Regions from separate parts of the Homo sapiens genome. Here region 1 is linked to region 2. A link means that fine-mapping ties the variant in region 2 to the expression of a gene that starts in the linked region. Tissue or cell type: whole blood. Region 2 holds a variant in brackets; the other region holds the start of a gene. All regions are shown on one strand. Distances are from middle to middle.

The links. PIP is the estimated chance that this variant, and not a neighbour inherited with it, causes the effect.
Region 1: ELOVL1 starts here. The variant in region 2 is fine-mapped to the expression of ELOVL1 in whole blood (TOPMed, PIP above 0.99).

The regions. Positions count from the first base shown.
Region 1 is chr1:43,365,567-43,371,965 of GRCh38, reverse strand. ELOVL1 (ELOVL fatty acid elongase 1) reads left to right here and starts at 3,955. Exons shown (of 8, transcript NM_022821.4): 1 at 3,955-4,051; 2 at 6,343-6,399. The coding sequence starts at 6,357. LOC112268225 (a long non-coding RNA gene) reads right to left here and starts at 3,754. Exons shown (of 2, transcript XR_007066049.1): 1 at 1-3,754. RefSeq lists silencers at 2,501-2,686, 3,626-4,305, 5,566-5,655 and enhancers at 3,106-3,185, 3,779-4,513, 4,514-5,248.
Region 2 is chr1:43,451,206-43,455,412 of GRCh38, reverse strand. SZT2 (SZT2 subunit of KICSTOR complex) reads right to left here. Exons shown (of 72, transcript NM_001365999.1): 72 at 1,166-4,207. HYI (hydroxypyruvate isomerase (putative)) reads left to right here and starts at 1,482. Exons shown (of 8, transcript NM_001190880.3): 1 at 1,482-1,818; 2 at 1,916-2,027; 3 at 3,094-3,208; 4 at 3,400-3,478; 5 at 3,566-3,615; 6 at 3,696-3,765; 7 at 3,869-4,003; 8 at 4,102-4,207. The coding sequence starts at 1,620. The coding sequence ends at 4,175. HYI-AS1 (HYI antisense RNA 1) reads right to left here and starts at 1,486. Exons shown (of 2, transcript NR_174945.1): 1 at 1,360-1,486. RefSeq lists silencers at 1,446-1,745, 1,856-1,915 and enhancers at 2,706-3,592, 3,593-4,207. The variant A/G (reference allele first, on the strand shown) is at 2,003.

The DNA of each region.
Region 1 (6,399 bases), 85 kb after region 2:
ATTACAGGCATGAGCCACCTTACGCGGCCTAGAAAGTGACCTTTAATGCTCAATTAAGTGTCATTTTTGCATCACCTTTAAGAATTAGCCTCCATACTGAGTTAAGGTGCCCCCGCACCCCAGTGCTTTCATAACCCTCTGGGTTTATCTCTATGGGAACACTCACCACATATATAATTGCTCATCTATATGTCTGTCTTTTCCATCAGACTGAGTGTTTTGCAGGAACCCCAGGGCCATGAAGATGCCATTTGGTAGGATTTGGGGCTAAGTGGTCTATATCAGATATTTGAGCATCCTCAAATATTTGGCAAACATCCATTCACTGTTTGCCAAACTGAACAAAAGAAACTCAGGAAGGGGGAGAGGGGTATGATAGAACCTGGGACAAGAGCTGAACAACTGTCTTTGAGCATGTTCATTCATGTAGTCAGTCAGCATTTATTGAGGGCCTGCCATGGTCATTTACAAATGTGGTCCAGGTAAATAAAAACACAGTTGAAGTTTCCTATCACTGCTGTGTTTGGCCTCTGGGACAGTTTCATCATCTATAATAGTCTGCTTTGTCTCTAGTGCACTCTTATGATGGACATTTAATCCAAAATCTCTCAATAGTGCTCTCACAACAGTGGTTTGCACACAGTAACTGTTTAGGAAAGATTATTAAAAGAATGCTCATGAATCTACATATAAGTATGTACCTTCCTGATACTTTGGGCACTTTCCCACCTTGTCCATTAAATGTTGAGACAGAAACAGTGCTGAACACCTTACATGTGTTATCTCTTTCAGTCTTTACAGCAATCCTATGAGATAGGAACTCTTATTGCTCCAATTTTATAGAGGTTCAGCAACTTACATAAGGTCACACAGGTACTAATTGGAACATTTAAACTCATGGCTTTGGAGTCAGGTGTGAACCTGAAGTCATTAGAGTATACCTGGAACACAGGCTTTCAATAAATATTTATGGACTCAGTGATACTGTTCCCAAGGGAAATGGAAAGGCTTTCTAATTCTTATTGTCCTCTCCACTTGACTCTGGTTCCCTTGGCCTCTCTTCCTTTCCCACGTCATCCCATTCACACTAACATTCATTCAACAAAGGTAGAGGGCCAACTGAGTACCAGATAACGGGCCAGATGCTGGAGATACAGAGATGACAAAACATGGCCCATGCTGAGAGGAGCTTATAGTTTTGCGATGCAGATAAGCATATAATTACAATTGTGGGAGCAAGAGGAGGGAGTGATTTACTGCCTAGGAGACCTGACTGTTCCTTGTGCTGAGCCAGGGGGCAAGGTTTGAGGGTTGAGGGGGGTATGAAAGATGCTGACATCCTCGGGGAATGGTTAAAGCACTGGGTGGGGCCCAGGAGAGTGTCACAGGTAGAATGAGAGGACAAGGCAGGGACCAGATCAGTTAGGACCTTAGTGTTGGAGCCTTTTAAACAGTGAATTCTGCCATTTCCTTTCAAGGATGGGTACTAATAGGCTGGGTCATATCTGTACTTTGGCTCAGACCTCTTACCTAAACTCTAGGACTAAACTTTCACATAGCTATATCCCACCATTTGTGGAGTTATTTATTTATTTATTTATTTATTTAGAGACAAGGTTTCTATCACTCAGACTGGAGTGCAGTGGCGCAGTCTTGGCTTACTGCAACCTCCACTTCCTGGGCTCAAGTCATCCTCCCACCTCAGCCTCCAGAGTAGCTGGGACTATAGGCATGCATCACCATGCCCAGCTGATTTTTTGTATTTTTTGTAGAGCCGGGGTCTCACGATGTTGCCCAGGCTCGAACTTGTGAGCTCAAGTGATCTGCCTGCCTCAGCCTTACAAAGTGCTAGGATTACAGGTGTGAGCCTCCATCCCCAGCCTATCCTACCATTTATGAACATCTTTTTTTTTTTTTTTTTTTTTTCTGGAGACGAGTCTTGCTCTGTTGCCCAGGCTGTAGTGCAGTGGCATGATCTCGGCTTACTGCACCCTCTGCCTCCCAGGTTCAAGCAATTCTCCTGCCTCAGCCTCCCAAGTAGCTGGGACAACAGGCGCACACCACCATGCCCAGCTAATTTTTTTTTAAATGTATTTTAGTAGAGATGGGGTTTCACTGTGTTGCCCAGGCTGGTCTCCGAATTCCCTTTTTTTTTTTTTTTTGAGACGGAGTCTTGCCCTGCACTCCAGGCTGGAGTGCAGTGGCTTGATCTCGGCTCACTGCAACCTCCGCCTCCCAGGTTCAAGCAATTCTTCTGCCTCAGCCTCCCGAGTAGCTGGGATTACAGGCTTGCGCCACCATGCCTGGCTAATTTTTGTATTTTCAGTAGAGACGGGGTTTCACCATGTTGGCCAGGCTGTTCTCAAACTCCTGACCTCAGGTGATCTGCCCGCCTCAGCCTCCCAAAGTGCTGGGATTACAGGCGTGAGCCAACGCACCCGGCCTTTTTTTTTTTTTTTTTTTTTTTTTTGAGACAGAGTCTTGCTCTATTGCTCAGGCTGGAGTGCAGTGGTGCGATCTCGGCTCACTGCAAGCTCTGCCTCCCGGGTTCACACCATTCTGTCTCAGTCTCCCGAGTAGCTGGGACTACAGACGCCCGCCACCACGCCCGGCTAATTTTTTGTATTTTTAGTAGAGATGGGGTTTCACCGTGTTAGCCAGGATGGTCTCGATCTCCTGACCTCGTGATCCGCCTGCCTTGGCCTCCCAAAGTGCTGGGATTACAGGCGTGAGCCACCGCGCCCGGCCTTTTTTTAAAAAAATGTGTTTATTTTCCTTGCGGAGCAGGGCTGCCCCATAAGCAGTGTGCCCAGAGTAGCCCAAATTCCCTAATTCTGTCCGCACTTACACCATCCAATCATACAAGCAGTTGTTAGATCGTTGTGTGCTACTGTTCCAGGGGCCGCTGGAGGTAGAAATTCCATTTCACTAAAATCTAGTCTGTCCTTTGCCCCCACTAGTTGAGTCCAGTTAGTGAGTGTGGAGGTGGGGGCTGGAGGTGTAGAAGAGATAAATAAATATATAGAGAGCCAGTCCAGCTGTCTGGAGGACATTGTCCGCCTCCTCCAATCCCATCAGTTGCCACATCTTCTTTGGTCAGGCTGGCTTTCTCACCTGGTCTCCTTTCTGTGCCCTCCTCACACTGGCTGCCAAAGTGATTCAGCCAGATAGACTGCAAGCCCCGTGAGTGCACGGACGGTGGGTGGTCCATAAACGTCTGATGAACTAATGATACAAGCTTGAATATAGTCTCCTAAAAAAATCTTTAGTTTCTCCTCTGCTTCTAGAATAAAAATCAGATCGCCCCATTTGGCCTTCAAGACCTACTACATTCAGCCACAGTCAGCTTCATTTCCCTTTTTTCCTTTCACTACCTCGAAGGCCAGATTAGCCAGTGATTCACTATGCTTGCCCCGGGCCACTTGTATCCTCTCACCTCCGTTCCAGGCAGCCCTCGCAGCAGATCCTAACGCTTAGGGCTCCTCCAAGTGTACAGGCTCGTGAGGCTTCCCTCCCGCTAAGACCAGTGCGCCCTCAGCACACGCAGTGTGGTCTCGCCCGCCGCTCTGCGCTCGCCCTGCAGGAGAGGGAGCTCTTTGAAGGCAAGGCCGAACCTCCCCCGAGCCCTGAGCTGGGCCTGCCGCCACAGATGTGCAGTCCTGCCGGGGAGCAGTCACCCGGGGACAGGGCCGGGCCCCGGGCTGCACGTCGGGAAGAGACAGCGTGCTCCTGAGGTGGCCAGGCCGCTGCAACTGGCCAGGGCGGGCCCGGGCGGCGAGGGAAGGGGTGGGAAGCCCGGGCCGCGGCGCTTCCTGCTGGGACCCGGCGGCACGCCCCTGCCCCCGCCCCGGCCGAGCCTGCGCTGCCGGCCTCCGGCCCTGCCGGCCGCCCAATCAGCGGGCGCCCCCCGCGCGGCCCGCCCCTCCCCCTCTGGTGACAGAAAGTCGGCCCAGCAGATGAGGAAGTGGCAGGCAGGCAGGCTGGCCCCGGGGACTTCTCTCTGGCCCTGCTCCCTCCGAGCGCTCCGCCGTTGCCCGCCTGGCCCCTACGGGTGAGTCTGGACCTTCCACGGACTCTCCACGTGCCGGCGCCCCCTGCCTGGCCAGCCCGGCCCAGCCCGGCCCAGCCCTGCCCTGCCCTGCCCAGGCTGTGGGCGAGGGTGTTCCCGGGGCCAGTGGGTGGGAGGTCCCAGCTCCCTGGGGCCGGGCCTCGCCAGCACCCTCCCTCCCCCACACCCCCGTCTCTGGCCCCCATTTGCCTACACCCGGGCCTTCCTCCACCACCCCTGCATTTACCTCTCTCCCTCCTCCTCTCCCCTCCCTCCCCCCGCTACCCTAACTTTGCCAGGCACCTTTTCCCTTCCATCCATCTTAAAGGAAGGAAGGGACGGGCTGAGTTCCCCGACGAGAGACACACCCAGATTTTCCTGCAGCTTGGGGAGAGGTCCTCCCAGGAGCCTTGGTCCCTCCTGGCCTGCCGGGTGTGTGGGTTGATATTGGGGGCTGGTGGTTGAGAGATAACAGGCTGGCTGGCTCCCATGTGTCAGGGAGGAACCTGTGTTGGCGCCCTCGCCCCGGCCTGGGCCCTGCCGGCGATGGGCGGCCAGCAAGCCCGATGGTGGGGGAGCAAGTAAGGAGGGGATCCGAGCGTGGCCAGGCAGCGCGCACACGTGTGTGAGTGGCCCCGCGGGTGAGCCCGTGCGTGTGCCTGGGCGGTGGCCGAGCTGCGTGAGGGCCGGGAGCCATGCGTGTCAGCCCACGGAGGTGTTGCGTGGTGTGTCAGGCAGGAGACGTGTGTGCCAGCCCTCGGCGTGGCACCTTCGCTGTTGGGGGTGGAGAGCTAGGTGAGAGGTGGGTGTGGACCGCAGGCTTGGGGCCTGACCACGGTGGGCCTAAAGAAGCCGGGCCTCCTGGAGGTGAGGGGTGTGCGGGGCAGGGAGGTGTCAGAGGTGCGCCTCTTCACTTGGCATCTGCAGAGGTGCTTCTCTGGAAGCAGGGAGTCTGGGGCACCTGCTGCCCTGGGCCCTGCTCTGTTCCAAGAATGCCTTGTCCCTCAGGGACTGTCAGTACCATGCTCTCCTGGGTCTGGCCAGAGGCTTTTGTGTCCCTGGGAGCCTTCCCCCGACATTCCTTCAGGCCCTGAGGGGGAGGGGGCCTAGCCCAACGGGGCCCCTCCCTGAGGGAGGGGAAGATTCCTGCGACCTCCCCCACTCCCCAACCCCTTCACATGCCACTGGCTTCCCTGCCCTTCCCAGGAAGGGAAGAGTGATTGTACCCATTCTGAAGTAGGACAAACTGAGCAGTTATGGCCGGCTTAGGAGAGGATGCTGGGTGTGGATTTTCAGCAGTGCTTTGGGCCAGGGCTGGGGCTGGGGCTGGGGTCAGAGGAGGTTTCTGGCTCAGAATCTAGGACCTTAGCTCATCAGGCTGGTCCCACGTGGGTGGGTGGGTGGCGAGTCTGGGGCTTTACTTGGCTTTCCCAATCCTGGTGGGTCCTGCTCCCCCAGGCACTGACCTGTGGCCCGGACCCACCCTCCACCCCCTGCACAGTACAGCAGGGGCGGGCAGAGGGCGGGGCTGCTGCCAGATCTAGTCAGACAGGTGGAGCCGCCGGGGCAGGAGTCTCAAAGAGCCAGGCTCCAGGAGAGGAAGGGCTCTGCGAGAGGAGAGAGGAGAGCGCTGGAGAGGAGAGGCTGGAGGTGAGAGTCCCAGGAAAGGCAGAGGAGAATCGTAGGGACATAAGTGTCCCAGCACAGGCAAGGAGGAATCCGAGGATAAGGTTCTGGAGGGACAGAAGGGCCCAGAGAGGTGAGAGTCCTGGCAGGGACAGGAGGGACCCTGGGGAGAAGAGAGTTCAGGAAGGGTCCAGAGGGATGGGAAGAGGAGAGGGCAGGAGAGGAGAGATTGAAGGGGAGAATCCCTGGAGAGAAGAAAGACCCAGAGCTGGGGAGGTGAGGGACTCGGGTGAGGAAGGGAGACGGAGTTCAAGAGCTCCCTGTTGGTGAGAAGGTAAGATTCTCCAGTAAGAGACCTGGAATTGAGAGTTATCTTGTGGAGGAAGAGGGGAAGGGAGGCCAGGAAGTAAAACTGTGGAGAGGAGAGGAGAGTAAGGTGTGGAGAGGAAGGGTGGAACAGCTCTTCCCAGGCAAGCAGGATGTGTGGGGAGCAGATGCCTCAACCAAACTGCCTCCTCCCCCTAGTTCCCAGTAATTCCTTCCTTTCACTGTTCTGTCCTTTCTGCAATGAGGCATTGCAGGTGTCTTGTCTGGTTCTGTGTCTTATCTCTGTGGGATGGGGGTGTGCAGTGGGATCTGTCTGACATCCGCCCTCTGTACCTCCCCAGAGTCCTTAGCCAGGATGGAGGCTGTTGTGAACTTGTACCAAGAGGTGATGAAGCACG
Region 2 (4,207 bases):
GTCTGTTCTTGGAGGCAGAGCTGAAGAAACAGAACCTGCCAAGAATTTGGGTTCACCACGGGATCAGGCTGGATCCCTGGTGTCTGAGCTGGCCTCATTTGAGATGGAGTTGAGTGTTGACAGAACAATCAGTGGGAGCTGGGTGTTCCTAATGTTGCACTTTAAGCTTCTCTGTCAAAGTTAGCACAGACGATAGATCAAGATGACGTTTACTCATGAATTGTTGGGATATAAATTTATATTTTTCAAAGGAAATTTAAGATATCAACAACTTAAATATGTTCCTATTTTTGACCATGTAATTCTACCCATAAGAACCTGCCCAATCAGTTGGGTTATTGTAGATGAAAGTAAAATCATTCAAATTATCTCAAGAAACATTAAGAGGCTATACAGAGACAGAAACCCAGGAAAGTCTAAGCATCCCAGCCTTAAGTGCACAGACCTGGGGGCAGCTATGGGTTTGGGCACCCTTGGGATGACATGGGTTTCTCAGGGTGCTACCTCTATTCACAGGACTTGGTTCCCCTCCTTTCCGCTCTAGCTTTTCTTTACCATAGGACTGTCTTATTTCGTTTCTACAGCCCAGTCACCTTCTGGCAACACCACCTGTTGACTCTCAGCATTTCCTTGTTTGAACTCTTGATTGGTTAAATTACCTTTCCAAACGACGCAAGTAAGAGGTTTTTGGCCAGTCTATGGATTGGCTGCCCTGGGATCAGATGACCTCCCTGGTCCAATCAGCTGAGGCTAAGGCTAAAAAGGGACAGCTCACCCATAGCTGCTCCAATGGGGCGGTTTCCCTTGCAAAAGACTAGCGGCGTGAACGGGCAAACACTGTGATGGACATCTCTAGAAAAAGACTCGGAAAAGAGTCAGAGATAGGGACTAAGAAGTGCCTGAAAGTGCGCTTGCAGCGCGCGTGCACACACACGATATCCAACCACAAAGTACAATAATGACTTGCTGCTTAGGTGTGCGACAATGAGCAGCGAAGGCACTGACTTTGAAGGCTATTGGAAAACACGAGGAAATGCTCACAAAATAATATTCCATGAAAAAGAGCTATAAAACAGCATATACCGAATGATCAGAATTTCCAAAGAAAAAAATTGCATATTTTAAAATTTGGACGGGAAAGCCAACAGGCTAGTGGTGTGATAACTGGCGGTATAAAAGTGCTTCTTTATTTGGTCATACAGCTTTCAAATGTTGCTTAACGAACAGATAGCATTTTTATAATCAGAGGAAAGACTCAGTATTAAAGTGCGCGTCCCATCATTGCAACCGGGCCCTCGGGCAGCCAGCTCTCTCTTGCTTCGCGTCCGGCTCTCAGGCCCTGGAGCTCGGCCTCCCTACCTTCTCCAGGCGCGGGTCCTGCTCCTTTTCCGGCCGCCCTCGCTCCGCCCCTTCGCCTCTCCCCGTGATCCCTCTCTCGCTAACCGTAGGCGCTTTTCGTGAAGGCCCGGGTTTTTACAGCACTTCGCTTTTCTAACCACGAACAGTGCTCGTTCGTTCGCAGGGCCAGCAAGGAGAGCCCCGCCCCCGCCCGCCGCCCGCCGCCCGCCGCCCGCCGCCTTTGGATCCCGCGGACTCCGCCCGGCCCGGCCTCCCCAGGCATGGCGCCGCTGCGCTTCTCCGCCAATCTGTCCTGGCTATTCCCCGAGCTCTCCGGCCTCCCCGCGCGGGTGCGGGCCGCGGGCAGCTCGGGCTTCGAGGCCGTCGAGGTGGCCTGGCCGTACGCGGAGACGCCTGAGGCGCTGGCGCGCGCCGCGCGAGAAGCGGGGCTGCGGCTTGTACTGATCAACACGCCCCCGGGTGCGTCGCGGGCCGGGAGGGCTGGGAGGGCTGGGGGGTGCCGGGGCGCGGGCAGGGGAGTGTCCGAGCCGGGGGCTGAGGCCCGTTCTCTCTGCAGGAGACCAAGAGAAGGGGGAAATGGGGCTGGGGGCCGTCCCCGGGAGACAGGCGGCCTTCCGAGAGGGACTGGAGCAGGCCGTGCGGT[A/G]TGCCAAAGCCCTGGGCTGTCCCAGGTACCCCGCTCCACCCCACCCCCACCCCTGTGACCCATGACCCTGATGCAGGTTCAGGGAGTCGAGGACGCCAGATCTGAGACGCTCAGAAGTCTGAGCCCACTGGTTTATCTCTGCCTCTGCGGTCCTGGTCCTTTGTAAATTGCCTTTTGTATTTTATCTGTCTTATGCCACTCTGTTTGCCACTCTTTCATGCTCACCCCATGCTGGGATCCCATGCTGGGAGCTCAGTCTGCCTAGGCAGATAGGAGAGTAAATATATACAGTGATGCATTTGAGGACAGGCCTATTCCAGGAAGCTGTGGGAGCAGGGTAGGCACCTAACCCTGTCTGGATCAGAGAAAGCTGCTTACAGGTAGTGATGCTTGGACTGTCTTCAAGGAGTGGGCATTGCTTGATGGGCAGGAAGTTGAGTGTTCCTTGCAAGGGTGCTGTGGCAAGAGGAGGCCTGGTGTATTTGGCAGCGTTCCTGAGGCTGGACATGTATGTAGCCTGTTGGGATGGGGAGGCCTGGAATGTCTGCTTGGAGCTGGATGTGGCTAAGATCAGGGGATGATGGGAGGAGGTGGACGGCTCAAAGTGGGGCTGATTCAAATGTCAAATCCTGCAGAGGCCAAACAGGCTCAGAAGGAACTGGCAAGAGGGGATCACTACTGGTCAATGGTGGGGGCAGAAAACAGATGGGAAAAGGCTAAGTAGATGCGAGGAGAGGAAGTAGAGACAGCAGCATGGAATACCTGAGAAGGGCAAGCAAAGGTCAGGACAATTTTTAAAGGTGAGAATTTAGCAGGTTACAGGTTGCGGAGAAGGACCGAGGGAAGGAAAGGTTTTGGAAAGTACTGGAGGCAGGAGGCGGTGGGTGGACACTGAGATGTCTGGGAAAGGGCTTGCCCCTCAGCCATCACTGAAGTGTCTCTGAAAGTGCTGGGATACCTGGGCATCGTGACCCAGGTGCCATGGACTGGAGACCTGGGGAGACGGACGAGGGCTGGCACAGTCAGGGAATCCTGGAAGAGGTGCAGAGAGAGCCAAGGGAGGCAAGGCCTCCAGTCCATCTTCCCCACAGGATCCACCTGATGGCTGGCCGAGTACCCCAGGGAGCTGATCGAATAGCAGTCAAGGCTGAGATGGAGGCCGTTTTTCTGGAGAACCTGAGGCATGCAGCTGGGGTTTTGGCTCAGGTGAGAAAGGTGGAAACACACACGTACTTACATGTCTCTGTGGGTGTGCGGAGAAGGGGGTGCACAGTGGGGACAGCACGTGAGGCTGCCAGCCTAGGTCAGAGGAACAGGTGAGGGCCTTGACCAGTGACTGACTGATGGGGGACAAACTTGGGAAGGAGCTCTATTCACAGCACCCGACATGCTGCTAGGAGGACCTCGTGGGACTGCTGGAGCCCATCAACACCCGCATCACTGACCCCCAGTACTTCCTGGACACGCCCCAGCAGGGTACGACCCCAGCCCTGTCTCTCCTTCTGTCCCTTTTGATTCCTGTGCTCTTGAGGCTCACGGTCCCCTCCCTGGCTTCTCTTACAGCGGCAGCCATCTTACAGAAGGTAGGAAGACCCAACCTCCAATTACAAATGGTAAGTGGAAGGGGGTACTTCGCAGATCGGAAGGAGGGCGGGGCCTGCGGGGTCTCGGAATGTAGTATCCTCTTCCCTAGGACATATTCCACTGGCAGATCATGGATGGGAACCTGACAGGAAACATCCGGGAGTTCCTGCCCATTGTTGGTGAGAGGACCTTCCTTTGCCCTCCCACCCTTTCAATCCCCACATCTGTCCTTCAGGCCCTGGCAGGAGCCTGGACCCCACATTTGTCCACATCTGTCCCCAGGGCATGTGCAGGTGGCACAGGTCCCAGGCCGAGGGGAGCCCAGCAGCCCCGGAGAGCTGAATTTCCCCTATCTGTTTCAACTGCTGGAAGATGAAGGCTACAAAGGCTTCGTGGGCTGTGAGTATCAGCCTCGAGGTGAGGCGTGGCCCTGGGGAAGGGAGCTCTGGAGGGACCCGGACAGGGGCTGTTTTCTCCTTGTGGGCTGAGGTGCCGAGGCCTCCCTCTCCCTGCAGGAGACACAGTAGAGGGCTTGAGTTGGCTACGTTCATACTGGGATAGGCGGGGCCACCCAGAGGCTGGCCAGTGAGGGCCCGCACACCACCCACGTGCCTCCAGACA